2 separate regions of the Homo sapiens genome follow, and region 1 is linked to region 2. Evidence: fine-mapped expression QTL. A gene starts in region 2. The other region holds a variant in brackets. All regions are shown on one strand. Distances are between the middles of the regions. Region 1 overlaps EVC (EvC ciliary complex subunit 1). Region 2 holds the start of EVC (EvC ciliary complex subunit 1).

Region 1 (2,500 bases), 22 kb after region 2:
GTCACTTCCTGTGCTGTATTGCCCAACACTGGGGTTATGGAGTCAGGCCTGAGCCCCGGGGAGAGATGACAGGGAGGCCTCATTTAATCACTGGCGTGCTCCCAGCTACTGGCGAAGTTGATTAAGTGGGTACTTCTGAGTACCGGGCAGAGTGCTAAGCACTTTACAGGGATTGATGATCTCATGAGGATTTTGCCCAGTGAGGGGGATCCTGGGACAAGTTCAGCAATCAGTAAATATTAATCAGTGAGTGAATGAATTCCGTTTAACACCCCTATGAAGTTGGTACTGTCATTTCCTCCAGTTCACAAAGAATAAAGGGAAACACAGAGAGGCTGCGTGACTTGCTGGTCACACAGCCGTGAGTGACGGAGCCGGATTTGACCCAACCCAGAGCAGGGCTCCGCACGTGGTGGGGGCTTAAGAAGCTCAGTCTGGCGGGTTCACACACCAGGCCTCAGGCCTCTCTCTGCTCCAAAATTCCGCTGAGTCCAAGAGGTGGGATGATCCAGGGCACAGCCTCTGCTCAGAGTTGCTGCAGAAACACTGGGCTCAGCACCTTGAGCCTGAAAGTGGCCCAGGCAGAAGGGACTTCGTTGAAGAGGGGCCTTCTTGGACTGGCCAGCCCTGGCTTAGAACGGCTTGCTTTCAGCATTTGGGACTTAGAGGATTTGAAACGGTTTGGGTGGGAGAGTCATCATTTAAAATGCATTTGCCTATGAGGGAAAAAAGGTCAAAGACTTTTACACTCTGCCATGTATCTGCCCCCGTTGACCCTATGATGGTCACTTGATTTGTCTGATTCTCTCTTCCCTGAGTCAGTTTCTGCATCTGTAAAATGGGCATGAGAATGTCTCTGCTAAGGCACCGAGGAAAGGTGACACGTGATGATAGACATGAAAATGCTTGAGGTTGGGCACCATGGCTCATGCCTGTAATCCCAACATTTGGGAGGCCAAGGTGGGTGGATTGCTTGAGCTCGGGAGTTTAAGACCAGCCCAGGCAACATAGTGAGACCCCATCTCTAAAATAAAATCCAAAATCAACCGGGTATGGTGGTGCATGCCTGTAGTCCGAGCTACACGGGAGGCTGAGGTGGGAGGATTGCTTGAGCCCGGGAGGTGGAGGCTGCAGTAAGCCGTGATTGTACCACTGCACTCCAGCCTGGGAGACAGAGCAAAACCCTATTTCTAAAAAGATAAGTAAATAAATTTTTTTTTAGAAAATACTCAAAGGAGGAAACGTCATTTTTATTTCTCTCCCTTCCCTCTCTCCATTGGTTTTCTCTTGGAAGTCCCAGGCACCTATGTCTCTGACACCAACTGTTCTCTTATGGCCATTAGTGGGTTTCAAACAGCTCATTTGATCCCTTCTTATAAACCTGGAGTGAGCGTAAGGACCTCAGCATGCT[G/A]CAGAATGAGAGTTTGAGGCAGGGTGTGCTGTGGCTTGTACTGATGAGGGACGTGCCAATATTCTTACTCTTCATTTCCGATACCCTGAAAGTCTTTTCCGCTTCTCATTTTATTTTGCAGTGTAGACGTTGACCTGTGTATCTACAGCCTTCACTTAAAAGACCTGCTGCATTTGGACACGGCACTGAGGCAGGAAAAGCATATGGTAGGTGGAGATGTTCGCATTCCCTCCTTTTCATGGGGACAGGAGCTGGGAGACAAGGACTCTGTGTGCAGTGAGTCCCAGAGACCCTTGAGAGGCAGACATCAGTGGAAACAGAGCCGCTGTGAGGTGGGGGAAAGCGGCGCTGTCAGGCATGCAGCCACAAAATGGAAAAGCACTTCACGCCTGTTGGTGGGGCATGGCCTTGACTTCAACCAGAGCTGTAGGGGCCTCAGCAGAAAGATGAGTGCCTCCTCCCGGGCTACACCTCCTGCTGGAGATAGAGATAAAAGATATTTAAAAGAGAACAATATGTTTAAAGGAATGATAATAATGATAAGAATATTTATGAGCATGAATTTTCTTGAGTCTTGCTATGTACGAGGTCCCAGGAGTATTACACTTAAACCTCAGCACAACCCAGAGGGGCGGGTGTCATTATCATGTCCACTCTGCAGGTGAGAAAACTGAGGCACAGGGCAGAGGATTTACCCAAAGTTATAAAGCTGCAGGAGTGGCACTGAGATGAGAAGTTCAGTACCTTTTCATGGGGCCACGTGTTCTCTTGACTGAATGAACAAGAACTCAGAACTGTGGATGTGGGGAAAACAACATTAGTCTCTGCCAGATGCACCTGGCCTCTGATTGAATCAGCCACGGACCTGAGCTATGGGAAGCCAGAGAGAGGAGTCCCACTTTAGCCGCAGAACCCCGGTGGGTTTATTCAGGCATCAAGATGACGGGGGTTAAAAAAAAGTGTTATTTCTCCATAAGGCACATTCTCTGAATTACTGAATGAGGAATGAGACCCTACAGAGAGAAGGCAGATGAGAGAAAGAGGAGAGCTAGAAACAGGTGGACAGACACACAGATATGTCTACAGGGC
Region 2 (2,990 bases):
CTAAGCAAGCTCTCCCTGAACTCTCCGAGGGGACAGGGATTTGCTTTGCCAAGGGACGCAGGAGGAGGAGGAGGAGAAAGACACAAAAAGGGGGACTGGTGGAGCCTTTTGTGTGCTTCCTCATCCCTGCCTAGGTCCTGGGTGACAGCTGACACCTGTTGACGGGGGAGGGCTCCACTCCCGCCAGCCTTCCTGCGGGGCAGGCTGTTAGGCTGTCTATAAAGTCTCAGGCCAGCGAGCCTGGCCCCTGGCAGCCTCTCTCCCCATAACCCAGACCATCCAAGGACAGGCCTTTCCTGACCTAACATGGACAAGGCCATGGGGTTCGAGAAGCTGAGAATTTATAAGCCAAGTTCCCCACACCAGGGGGTACGTGGCAGCTGTCAGGCATGTGACAAGACCACAGGCTAAATGCCAAGCATGTTGCTGGACCGTTGGAGTTGTTTGACAGTCAGTCATTTAAAGGTTAATTTAATAGTCAACAACTTTATGATAAAGTAAAAAGCAAATAACCCTACATTTAAAAAATCTCCTTAGTATTTTTTATGGAGTCAGGGTCTCACTATGTTGCCAAGACTGGTCTTAAACTCCTGGGCTCAGACAATCCTCCACTTGAGCCTCCCAAAGTGCTGGGATTACAGGCGTGAGCAACCACACCTGGCCCAAACACCACATTTTAAAAACTAAAGCCTAAGCATTCATGGAAATGTAAAACAAGAGCGTCAAGTTATTGCCCCCATACATGTCCCCAGGAACCTTGGAGATGCTTCTAAGGTAATATATAAGAAGCTCCACATAGCAGAGAGTTTGCCCTGAAGCCAGACACAGGTGTAAATGAGACAAGAATTCTGCCCCACTCCTTAATTGCAAATGAGTCACCTCTCCTCTCCAGCTGTCAGTTTCTTCATTTATTAAAAAAAGATGAAGAATTTGGATAACAGTTCCCATCTTGCCATGAGGAAATGATGAAACAAACTAGAAACAAGCTGGACATCTAGGCTGAAAGGACAAAGCCCTCCTCTGCTGAAGCAGATCCCCATGGTGTCCCCTAGCCCGGCCCACACAGGGAATTAAGCTCCACAGGGTAGGTGTGTGTGTGTGTGTGCCCCTGAGTGCAAGTGTGCAGTCGTGCATGTGCATGTGTGCTTTACCCAGGCACCCAGGACAAAAGCAAACATCTAGTAGCTACCCCATAAATGTTTGTTTAAAGCAAACACAGTGATGAACTCCTTTAATTTTTTATCACTCTAAACAACTGTGAGATACTCACTAGCCTGGACACTGCCTGGTTTGTGGCTGGCCTATCCCCCAGCCTGCAACACACACACAACAGATTCTCTCCAAGTGCTGAGTAAATGAAGGATGGTGCAGTGTCCTGGTCCTAGTGGGGAGCGGGTGTAAGGGTCTCTTTATCCATTGTCTCAGTGGGGAGTGGGTGTAAGGGTCTCTCTACCCTTGGTCCTAGTGGGGACTAGGTGTAAGGGTCTCTCTACCCATCGTCTCAGTGGGGTCTGGGTGTAAGGATCCCTTTACCCATCCTCCTAGTGGAGACTGAGTGTAACGGTGTCTCCACCCATTGTCTCGACCTTCCCTGGGACAAAATAAGATTAAAACAGGAGTCTTCGCGTGAGCAAGTTCAGAGGCGTGGAGGGCGGTGTGTTCCCGGGAAGGTTGATGGGTAGAGGTTAGGGGCAAGGGCAGGGGGTTGGAATTGCATTGATCCCAGCGTCTTCATCAGGAGGATGGGCGGAGCACCCACCGCAGAGGGTTATTGAGAAAGTTAATGAGATCATTAAGCTAAATGCGTAGCATATTCTAAGCCTCAAAAAACTTAAAGGAGCCTTCTAAGCCTCAGTAAAGTTAAAGGGGTGGAAACCGGGCCCCCCTCCGGAAGGGTCCGGGGCTGGGAGGCGCGTCTGTCTCTGGGCATGCTCAGTGCAGGGGCAGGGCTGGGGCGGGGGTGGCTGAAAGTTTTGAGCGGTGATCCAGGCTCCTCCCTCCGGCTCGGCGAAGCAGGGAAGGGGAGAGAAGCAGGAGTCGGGAGACTGCACAGGCCAGAAAGTCTGCGGAGCGGGCCGCGCCCCTGGCCCGCCCGGGCTCCAAGTCCCGCGTCGCCGCCCTGGCGGGGACGGTGCAGCAGGCGGCGGGATGCGGCGGGGCGGCAGCCTGAGCGCCCCGGATGGCCCGCGGCGGGGCGGCCTGCAAGAGCGACGCGCGGCTGCTGCTGGGGCGGGACGCGCTGCGGCCGGCGCCCGCCCTGCTGGCCCCCGCCGTGCTGCTGGGCGCCGCGCTCGGCCTCGGCCTCGGCCTTTGGCTTGGCTGCCGCGCGGGCCGCCAGCGCACGCGACACCAGGTGGGTCGGCCGAGCAGACAGCGGCGGGGCGGGGAGCGCGGGGCGCGTGGCTTCTGGGTCCTGCGGGCCCGGAGCCCCGGCTCTGCGACTCCTTGAGCCTGGTTGGGAACTTCGCACGCAACCGCTTAGGCGTCGGGTTCCCCTTCTGCTCCAGGAGGGAGGTGGCGGCGTGACTAAAGGGCATTGGCCTGGGGTCCCCTGCGGTGCCTGTTACATCCCACTCCGTTGGGTGATCCTTGACAGCAGCCCAACTGCGCCACGCCTCGGTCTCCTCATCTGCAGCACCAAGGGTTTGGACAGGACGCTGGCCCTGCTCGCCATGGTGGACAGAAGGACGGCTGGGGCTCCCACGCCTGAATGCCTATTCCTGCTTCTGCCTCTTCCATCCTTGCGGTGTGGGTTACGTCGCCTGGCCTGAGTCCCAGCTGCCACATTGGCATTCATTTTTTCATTCACCCCACAGTAAAAGTTTTCAGGCACCTTCTACAGCCAGTCACTGGCCTAGGGACGACATTCATGAGCGGGAGAGACCCTGCCTTGAGGCTGTGAACCTCAAGGAGAAGGACGAATTGCAAGTTTGCAAGTAAACTATCGGTTATGACACCGCATGGGGAGTCTGCGATGGGACGCTGGCAAT

What was found. PIP is the estimated chance that this variant, and not a neighbour inherited with it, causes the effect.
Region 1: its variant is fine-mapped to the expression of EVC in whole blood (TOPMed, PIP 0.91).

What each region holds. Positions count from the first base shown.
Region 1 is chr4:5,731,819-5,734,318 of GRCh38, forward strand. It overlaps EVC (EvC ciliary complex subunit 1), which reads left to right. Exons shown (of 21, transcript NM_153717.3): 5 at 1,533-1,617. Among named protein-coding and RNA genes, the nearest start is that of EVC, 22 kb to the left of the region's middle. The variant G/A (reference allele first, on the strand shown) is at 1,412.
Region 2 is chr4:5,709,202-5,712,191 of GRCh38, forward strand. EVC (EvC ciliary complex subunit 1) reads left to right here and starts at 2,000. Exons shown (of 21, transcript NM_153717.3): 1 at 2,000-2,353. The coding sequence starts at 2,180. It also overlaps a transcript of EVC2 not described here. RefSeq lists silencers at 1,959-2,008, 2,059-2,208 and an enhancer at 2,679-2,748.